Linked DNA regions of Homo sapiens: region 1 is linked to region 2. The links come from fine-mapping of genetic effects on plasma protein levels. A gene starts in region 2. The other region holds a variant in brackets. All regions are shown on one strand. Distances are from middle to middle.

Region 1 (5,380 bases), 19 kb before region 2:
GAACCTGGGAGGCAGAGATTGCAGTGAGCTGAGATCACGCCTCTGCACTCCAGCCTGGGTGACAGAGCCAGACTCCGTCTCAAAAAAAAAGACAGATAGTGAAAGAGTATATTGAAAAACATGGCCCAATTATATGTTGTCTACACGAAAGTCGCCTCAATATAACAAAATAGGTTGAAAGTAAAGAGGAAGAAATACATCATGCTAACAATCAAAGGAAAGCTGGAGTGGCTATATTAATAACAGACAAAGTAGACTTCAGAATAAAGAAAATTACCATGGACACTAAATAGTGATAAAAGGGTCAATCCACCAAGACACAGCAATCCCAAATGTATATGCCTTCACCAACAGAGCTGCAAAATATGTGAAGCAAAAACTGGAAGAAATCAAAGGAGAAACAGACAAATCACAGTTATAGGTGGGGACTCCAACATTCTCTCTCAACAATGAATTGAACAACTAAACAGAAAATCAGCAAGTATATTAACAAACTCAACAACATCATCAACCAACAGGTCCTAATGACATTTTTTTGAGCAATATAAACCTAAAGCAAGCAGCAATCAATGAAATTGAAAACAGAGAAAAAAAAAAATCAATGAACCAATGGGCTGATTATTTAGAAAGATTAGTAAAGATCAACAAAACTGACAAATCTCTAGCAAGACTGACACAGAGATAGAGAGAAGACACAAATTACCAACATCAGAAATGAACAAGGAATATCACTACAAATATCAAAAGAATAAGAGAATGCAGTGAATAACTCTATATACATAAAGTTGACAACTTAGATGAAAATACAAACTATCCTAATTCCCCCAATATGAAATGGATAATTTTAATAGTTCTATAACTATTTTAAAAATTGAATTTGTAATTTTAAAACTCCCAGAAAAGAAATCTCCAGATTCAAATGATTTCACTAGAGAATTCTACTTAATATATAAAGAAAGAAAAAAAAATTCTACACAGTCTCTTTCAGACAACTGAAGAGGAAGGAATACTCTCTAATTTGTGAAACTAGGATACCCTGATACAAATATCAAACAAAGATGGCAGGGGAAAAAAAGAAAGCCAACCAATATCCTTTATGAATACAGACACAAAAAATCCTTAATAAGTCATTAGCAAAAAAAAATTCAGAAATATATTTTTTAAATTATACACTGTAAGAAATTAGGGTTTATTCCAAATATGCAAGGCTCATTCAAATGTGTGAAAATCAATCAGTGCAACCCACCACATTAACAAGCTATTATTTTGTACAACTGCATATGAATCTACGATTATCTTAAAATAAAAGTTTTAAGTAAACAAATGAAAGAACCTGCCCCAAGAAAGCAAATAATAGAAGTATGTCTACTACAATGGTTTTTACCTAAAGCCTCAGAAATATCTAAAGAGTTTATTAAAAGTCAAATAATTCATTTTTCTCTACAATACTTATTACCATATACCATACTATCTATGTTACTTTATTTTTGTTATTTTCTGCCTCCCTCTATTAAGATGAAGCTCCACAAAGCAATGATTTTTGTTGGTTTATCACTGTTCCAGCCCCAGGTCTGGAGATTTTTGTCTATTTATCACTGTTCCAGCCCCAGGTCTGGAACAGTGCCTAATATATAGCAGGCACAAATATCAATACATGCTTGTGAAATGAGTCAGTAAATGAATGAGTAATAGAAAAAAGAGAAGAAAAGCCTGGCTAGAGAGGTAGGCTGGGACCAAAGCAACAACAAGAACAACAACAACAACAACAAAATAACAGGCTAAGAAGCTTGGCCTCCGTTGGAGTCTTAAGAAGATTCAGTGGTGGGTGTACAGTCATCCCTCAGTATCCATGAAGGACTGGTTCCAGGACTCCTTGCAGATACCAAAATCTGAGGATGATCAAGTCCCTGATATAAAATGGTATAGTGTTTGCACATAACCTATGCACATCCTCCCACACACTTTAAATCATCTCTAGATTACTTATAATACCTAATACTATGTATATGCTATGTAAAATATTTGTAATAATGTATTTGTTTAGGAAATAATGACAAGGAAAAAAAGGTCTGTATATGATCAGTACAGACAAAGCCATTCTTTGAGACAGAATCTCACCCTGTCACCCAAGCTGGAGTGCAGTGGCACAATCTCTGCTCACTGCAACCTTTGCCTTCCAGGTTTAAACAATTCTTGTGCCTCAGACTCCCGAGTAGCTGGGATTACAGGTGTGCACCACCACACCTGGCTAATTTTTGTACCTGTAGTAGAGACAAGGTTTTGTCATGTGGGCTAGCTGGTCTTGATCTCCTAGCCTCAAGTGATCCGCGTGTCTCAACCTCCCAAAGTGTGGGGATTCGGGTGTAAACCACAGGTGCCCGGCCTTTTTCTTTTTCCCCCTAAATACTTACGATCCATAGTTGGTTGAATCCATGAATGCAGAACTCATGGGTACAATGGACCAACTATATATACGATCTTTTTTCCCCCTAAATACTTACGATCCATAGTTGGTTGAATCCATGAATGCAGAACTCATGGGTACAATGGACCAACTATATATACGATCTTTTTTCCCCCTAAATACTTACGATCCATAGTTGGTTGAATCCATGAATGCAGAACTCATGGGTACAATGGACCAACTATATATACGATCCCAAGAGCAGATTAATTAAATCCTATCAAATGTCCTAAAACTCCTTTAAAGTGCCATTAAGTGCCTATTTTAATGTGGCACACATCATGCTAGATGCTATATATACATTTTCTTTATTCTCTATTACCCCCTGCAACATAAAAGAGATCAGTGACTTGCCCAACGTCACTCAGCTGGGAAAGTACGGCACCAGGCTTGATCCCGGATCTGCCCAACTTAAAACAGCTTTCTAGTTCAGTTGCATCAAGAGTACCTAATATATATTAACAAAGAACATTACTGACATTTCATAAACTTATGTATAAAATACTCTTTCTAAATAATTGTATGAAAAGATGAAGATTTCTCCAGTAATTCACGAAAAGTCAAGTACCTTGGTTGACGCCTGGTCGTATTGTGCTGTTGTTCTCACTAGTTCATCCCTACATTTGTTCAAAACTTTCTCTTTTTCAATTAATTCCACTTTTGCTTTCTCC[A/G]GTTGGAGTTGGAGTTCTTGAAACTTATTCACTTGGCCTTTCATTTCTTTTTCATGTCCTTGCAGGCGTAGTTCCAACTCATTAATCTTGTTTCTTAGCTCTTGAACCACAAACAAAAATCACACTCCAATTCATATATATCTTTCCCAAAATGTTCATAACTTATCATTTGTTTTATTCTTTTCTGAAATCTTTGACGAAACAAATATTTACACTAAATACAGAAGCTACTTTAATTGGATTTAATTTCAATAGTTAGTTTCTATTGTCATTTGCATTCAAATACTCTATAGAAAGCAGGAGAAACAGATTTTCTTACATTTTAACAAAGAAACTTGGTGGGGGGAATGCTTTTCTAAAATCAGGAACGCTATCTTCTTATTGAGACTGTGAAAAGTACATCACATATGACACCCTTTGTTAAAATTACCATTTAGTTTTACACAACAGCAAACTATATTTGTTTTTTGCCCATATCAATGCAAATCAGTGCTAAGCAGTGAAAAGTTCACCCTCCTATATTCTCTGGTAGTTTTACCTCCAGTAAACATCAAGACAGTGTGAACCTCCCATACTGCCAAAATTAACAATGATTTTTTTTCCACTTTTTTCCCACATACGCACAACATTGGTTCCAATGGCATTGGCTAGGTGACAGCTCTCACCAGTGAACACTGACAGTGATTTTCAATATATCACAGCACTGGAAATTATCATCTTCTACAGAGTAGATTCCAAAACACCACCTGGTACCCTTGGCTGTCAGCTGCAGCGTGGCACAGCAGCCAAGGTTACAGGTTTGCTCCCATATGGACAACCTGGCAGGGCACAGCAAAGCTGTTCTGCAGACACACACACAACCTCTGGCCAAAGCTGGTCAGACCACAGCCTGGTTCTGTGGGTCACAAAAGGAGCCAGATGAGAAGCATGGGGAGTGTAAACTGTAACCAACCCACTCGCCCTGCATCTGGAAAGATAAATCAAAGCCTCTCAACGTACTTTAGAGGCTTCCAGGCACCAGCTTTTCAATACAAATAAAACTACATTCCAACACTATGATGCCTTTTATCATTATTGAAAAGACAGTATATTTCACATAACCAGTCTAGGATGTTGAACACCGATGTGCCTAACAAAACACATAAGCACTTTATGGGATTAAAAATATCTGAAATCACCTGTGAAATTACCTCAAGCAAAGTGAATTTAAACTTAACTTAGCTCAATGTTACCTTGATTCTGCGCTTTTAATTGATCCAAAAGATGAGGACTGCTAGAATTGTCAAAGAAACTGCTATTAGCATCTCTTTTCCCTATTTGCAAAGTTGATCGACTTGGAGTCACCTCTTGTTCCCCAGAAAAGTAAGATGCAGAGAAATCTCTCCTAATTGGAGTTCTTTGAGAATTAGATGAAAGATGACTTGGGGTCTTCTCTTGCTGCCATGAGAACACAGATGATGAAGCCTGATGCCGGGCAATGTCGCGGTGATTCATGGTGGCTTGTGGAAGAGTCTGGCTTGCTTTCTGTAGAAACAGAATCTCTTTAGAGGCCTTTAAAGATCTTATATACTCAAGGCTATTTATTTTCAGATAGAATATAAAGCCATAATCCCAAGAAGTTAACAGTTGCACTGCATACCAACAAAGAACATTCATCAAGTCAAGTAAACCATAAGTCTAATACCCAGTGATGGAATGTTCTAATGCTCGACTTCTTAGCATTGAAGGAATAAGCTACTACCATCTCATGCCCAATCTATTCAAAATAGGCTAAGTCTTAGTATTTATTCTGCATCCTTCTTAGAACCCATTAAACATATGTGAGTATTCACTTTCATTCTGAATTCCAAAACTGGCTTTTCTTTGCCTGTCCTTGGTTACCTCCCCCTATAGCTTTGCCCAAGAGAATCAAAGTTAAACATCACACTAAAGAACTCTTTCAAAAATCTCACATTCCACCATATCACTATCCCAAAAAAAGTCACATCGAGTGTTTAATAGTATATAATATACATTTGTGGATGATCTACCGCTTTGCATTGTTCTTTCTATGCTTCTCTCTGCCTCCATTCTGACAAATATCAAGACATGGAGGTGAATGCAGCATTAGATTTTTACAGCAAGCACTTTTTTTTGCCATAGGAAGAGGGTTAATGTTTACTAGAGACTCAAATTTTCCATAAAACATCTCTAGGAATCAATGTCAAGAGAAGAATTGATACAAATGACTGAACTGGATGACAAA
Region 2 (5,380 bases):
AGAGTGTCCGCTGTCCTGGCCAGTGCACCAGGAACGGCTTTCTAACCCGGGCAGGAAGGCGTGAAGCATTCAGGATGTGGGGGGCACACAGTTCCCAGTGTGCACCTAGGGGTGATCAGGAGGAGAGGCGCCAGGGCCTCCCCTACCTCCGCCCCAGGGCCACTCCGTAGGCGGGATCCCTACAGATCCTAGCTAGGAAACGCCAGGGAACGGCAGCGCCAGGGAACGGGGTGGGGCCGCTGGCTTCGCCCACCGCCGCGGTGTTGAGGGCTGGGGGTGGCCCTCGGGACTGGTGTGGAGCCTGGGCCTGACCCACTGACTTGGCTGAGTGGGGAGACTGGAGGGTCGCATCCGGAGCTGGGCCCGGGGACGCCCGCTGGCGGGAAGGGTGCGCGCGCGTCGGAGGCCGCGGCTGACCCTGCTCCGGCGCCTCCAGGTACGGCATCAGCCCGGACAGCATCATCCTGTACGGGCAGAGCATCGGCACGGTGCCCACCGTGGACCTGGCCTCGCGCTACGAGTGTGCCGCGGTGGTGCTGCATTCGCCGCTCACCTCGGGCATGCGCGTCGCCTTCCCCGACACCAAGAAGACCTACTGCTTCGACGCCTTCCCTAACATCGAGAAGGTGTCCAAGATCACGTCGCCCGTGCTCATCATCCACGGCACGGAGGACGAGGTGATCGACTTCTCGCACGGGCTGGCGCTCTACGAGCGCTGCCCCAAGGCGGTGGAGCCGCTGTGGGTGGAGGGCACCAGGCACAACGACATCGAGCTCTACAGCCAGTACCTGGAGGGCCTGCGTCGCTTCATCTCCCAGGAGCTGCCAGCCAGCTCGCCTAGCGGCGGCACCAACCGGCCAGACCTCAGCAATAAGGCAGCCCCCGGACCTCACCCCGCGCCGGCCCCCCAGGGGCTGCATGTGGACCCCCGGGCGGCCCAGGGGACCCCGCTCCAACCCAGGGGCTGTGGACGATGTACAGGCAACAGAGCTACGCACTCCTTTCCTTTTGGAAGCAAGAAGAAAATACGTGAAAACAGAAATTAAAGATTTAAAATTTAAAAAAAAAAAAAAACAAAGCGGATTCTTCTAGCTCAGGCACTTACGGATGTATGACCTTGGGCAAGTTATTTAGCTGCTCTATGCCTTGTTTCCCTTGTTTGTAAAATGAGGATAATAATGATGGTGACTTCCTAAGGCCTTAGAAACAGTAAGCTTTCCTGGTAAGCTTTCCATATATGTTAGCTATTACATACTTTTTAAAAACACTTTTTCACTTGTATATTTCAGCCTATGGTACAAAGGGTGAAGTGGCCTACCTCCTTCTCAGCCACATCTTAGGAAATAGAAATCAGCTGGAAGAAAATATAGCAACTTTCCTTTATTTTAGCCTTCAGAACATAAACAAAAAGAAAAATCATTCATTTTCCAGTTACTTAGGCAAGAGTTTGAGAATTTGTTTTTTTACTAAATAAAGTTAACGGCCATTTTAATGGTTTTTTTCAATCGATTTTATCAATGAAACTTTTTATCAAAACAATAAGCAGTTCATGAAAGTACTAAGAACAATAAAAAAAATTAAGAGGGAGAAGCAAAGGTCTTAGACAACATATAAGTTGGATATCAAAGCCCTGGAAAGCTGTGTTTTGCTACCAGTTTTGTTTTTTTTTCTAGCTCTCAGTTCTTGGAACACAGCATCTTGTATTCCACTCCCATTTATCCCAAAACTACTGAAAGGAGTCACATGCCTCTCAACCAACAAAGGACAACTGACCCTGTCTCAATATCCTCCATTCCAATCTAGTTTGTCAGGAGTCAAAGAACTGTACCCAGAGACACACAACTGTAATTGCCCTAAACAATTCAGCCAGCAACTGAAATCATTACATCAAGATGCTATAGCCAACAGAATATAAAAAGGAGCAATTTAGAAAGATGATTAGAAAATGAGGGGAATAAACATAAAGAAGACTGGCAAGCTGAATGCTTTTCCATTCCAAAGTCTAAGATAGAGAACAATATAGATGTAGACCAAGCTAACTGTGATTAGAGCAGATTTTGGCCCATTAAGGGATCAGCTATCAGCCACCTGTATTGGGCCATTGGGGCAAAAGAACAAAAAAATAAACCCAGAAGTTTACTTTTGAGGAACAGGGAATCGAGGTGGGGAGTGAAGAAAAGCCCTGGATGAAGGTTCCTGCATGGAGGACTTGCAGGACTATTGTCCTTTCCAGAAAATGCTGTATCTTTATCTCTTAAATACGTGGAGGGCACTCTTCATGCCCGAACTACCCAGTCCCTTAGTCCCCAAGGAAGCTCTTGTGTGACCTCCTCCTGCCCCACCTCCACCACTGCTTTCCCGTTGTCAGAATTCCCCACCTCCTCCAAAAAGCCAGAGTCCCCGTGCACTGTACCAAGGCTGGGTCTGAGAATGATAACCCTGCCTTCTCCTCTAGGTCAGGCTCAAGGACACGACCCATGCCTTTTATTTCTGGGTCCTCATTACACAGCCGAGCCGGGCACACAGGCGCGTTCAAATAAATGTGGAAGGGAGGACCGGGCGTAGTGGCTCATGCTTGTAATCCTGGCACTTACAGAGGCCAAGGCGGGAGGATCCCTTGAGCCCAGGGGTTCCAGACCAGCCTAGGCAATATAGGGAGGCCTATCTCTATTTAAAAAAAGAAAAAAAAAAATGTGGACGGGAGGAAGAAGAGAGGGGAAAGAGAAATGCTCGCGTAACTAACCATAGGCACCCCACGTCGCCAACCAGATCAAAACTCAAGCTTACATCTACTCAATAAAACAAAGGACCAGGGCCTGAATTTCAATAAGGTTGGTTACGGGACTGGGAAGGCGGCTTGGAAATACCTAGTCATCTCCAATTCTTTTACGGAGGAAGAAAATGATCCCCTAAAGTGTGAGTCCGTGACCGAGTAGGGTCTGGGACACTAATCCGAGACCAGTTTGAACCCGAGCAGAAGGGCGCAGACACCCCTACGAACCACATCCCGGGGCGGATTCTCCAGTTCGGTCGGGTGGGAGGGGGCGGTCCCCGGCACCTACAGGGCCGGGAGAGTGATCCCAGAGGCCTCCCCGCCCAGTACCCGCCGGCAAAAAGCCAGCGGCACCCCCACGCCGCCCGCCGCCTACCGCCCGCCGCCAGGGCCAGGATCCGGACCCAGTCAGGACGCTCACCTTGCTCTCGGGGACGGGAAAACGACCTCTCGGAGAGTACAGTTCTGGCGCGGCTTCGGCGGGCTGGAGCCCAGAGTCTAATTCAAACTGCCCGCAGCCGCCACCGGTGCCCAATTCGCCCGCTTCTGGTCTCAACCAAACTTACCTCCACGCCTATTGGTCACTCTAAGTAGCTGCGGACCAATCCGCGCCTGCGCACTCAGACTGCCGCGTCTGATTGGCCCTTTCGGATGGATTTTAAAAACAAGCCCTCTACTGGAGGTGCCTGCGCCGGAGTTTACTGTTCTTTTTTGTTGTTGCGGGGAGACGGAGACCACGTGCTTTTGCTAATGCTAGACGCGGTTTTGGACCGCTATTTCCGCAAAAGTCAGGGAATGCGCCCGCTGATTAGGAAGGCGTGGTCTATCGCCTACAGCCAGGGGAACTGTGCTGCCTGGTGAAACCTCTTTTAAACTGCACGTACCAATCTACTTAATTAAACGTAAATTTAGGACATAGATACTAGGTGCTGTGTTTGTCATGCATTCTTTATCCGGTGTCGTTCTTAACAATTCTTTGAGGAAAGTATTATCCTCATTTTATTAAAAAGTTAACAGGCTCATAGAAGCTAAGTACAGTAATTTGAAATTGAATCTACGCAATGCAGGATGTCGCTCTTAAATGCTGTCCTTTATGGTTCATATTTCTAAGACGTGATTCTGAACACTTATTTTCCGGGATTAAGGCGTGGGGGGAGGACACTGCATCAGAATTTAAAATTCAGAAGAATCCTCAAAACGGGGTGTAATGCTTTTCGTGAAGCCCACTAGTTTTCTATGTATGTTATATACTCGTTTTATTTCCCTATTAAACTATAAATAAGCTTCTAAAGGCAGAAGCAAAACAATTAATTGTTAAAGTAATAGATCTCTAATGCTGTTGTCTGCCTCAATAGGTACCAAACTTTCCAGCCCCCTGACTTTACCTTTCATTAGACTGTTCCTGCAGTACCCAATTCAAGTGTCACTTTTTTTATAAAACCTCCCTAATCCCACCCACTCCTTAGAGATAATTATTTCCTAGACCTTTCCTGGAACTTGCAAACTTCATGTTTAGGATTTTCGCCGTGTCTTGTCTTGTATTTATGTCTACGTCTGACTCCCCCATCAGACTCAAAAATTCCTTTACAGTAAAATCTGTTTTAATTCATTTTTGCATCCCTAGTAACTTTGCACATAGTAATTTAAAATCCAGATCATCTTGGGAGATAAAACTGCTATTTGGGGAAAGGCCTTGTTCTTACTATCTTCTACCTTCGAATCCCCAAAGGGAGGGGAGAGAGCAGGTAGGGGAGGAAAACTTTTGTCAGACATTGCCATGATCAGTCTAGTGTCTGGTAGTTTTAGAATTTGAACCAAATTGTGTCTGGCTTCAACACAAATTACAATTCCATTGCTTCCCAGAGTAATTATTCAACTATGTATAGGCTGTTTAAGGAAAAATAAACAGCTAGAAAGACAGATAATAGAGGATATTTTTAAGGTTTGAATAAGAAATTTGCATTTACTATTCATTCATTCGTTCTTCAGCAGATATCTATTGAGTGGCCACTGTATAGTCAAGCCTTGTGCTTCGTTTTTCTACAATGAACAATAAAGAAATACATTCATTTCTTGAACAAGGGAAATAGGATGGATACCATTCTAGTAACTCCTGTGATATTTCTCTGACTTTAATTTTATGCTTCCCTTCCCCTCCCTTTATTTTTCCCCCGGTTGGTTTGTTTGTTTTGTAGGGGGAGGATCCCGTCCAACCAAAGACAGATGTTCTCTAAGGGTCCATTTTTGGCTCTCTGCTCTTCTCTTTTTAAGTCCTTTCCCTCAGTTAGCCAGTCTACTCTCTCTGGATTGTTCATCCACTACCTCGATATTCTGCTTGTGGACCAGTGTCTTTGAGTCTTCCCATCTTTTCTACAGATTAGACTGCAGGTTCATCACTGAAATCACTCTTTTGCCAGTGTCCTCAACTCCCTTGCCTCTTGTTCTATCTCCCAAACTTGTATGTGTGCAAATGTCCATATCATCCCTTGGTGCACTATTGCTGCAGAATGGGGCTGGAAAAAAATCCCAGCACTGTGCAAATACTTTAAATGTAGGATGTCTAGCTGGGCCTCAATGCTGCTCCACAGCCCTTTCTCCCAGTTTCAG

Direction of the effects. Alleles are on the strand shown, and positions count from the first base shown. The strength of an association depends on the size of the effect and on how common the allele is.
For the plasma level of the protein whose gene starts at base 3,321 in region 2, allele G in region 1 goes with a lower level than allele A (weak association).

Evidence for each region. PIP is the posterior inclusion probability: the model's chance that the variant is causal. The UK Biobank Pharma Proteomics Project read protein levels with antibody pairs (Olink). The fine-mapping took linkage between variants from a reference panel, not from the people measured, so its PIPs are less certain.
Region 1: its variant is fine-mapped to the plasma level of the CENPF protein (UK Biobank, PIP above 0.99). The variant lies in the coding sequence of CENPF. If it changes the protein, the assay may bind it differently, which can mimic a change of level.

The regions. Positions count from the first base shown.
Region 1 is chr1:214,619,934-214,625,313 of GRCh38, reverse strand. CENPF (centromere protein F) reads right to left here. Exons shown (of 20, transcript NM_016343.4): 6 at 4,368-4,659; 7 at 3,033-3,235. Among named protein-coding and RNA genes, the nearest start is that of CENPF, 19 kb to the right of the region's middle. The variant A/G (reference allele first, on the strand shown) is at 3,136.
Region 2 is chr1:214,601,136-214,606,515 of GRCh38, reverse strand. CENPF (centromere protein F) reads right to left here and starts at 3,321. Exons shown (of 20, transcript NM_016343.4): 1 at 3,195-3,321. It also overlaps the pseudogene ABHD17AP3. RefSeq lists a silencer at 3,218-3,427.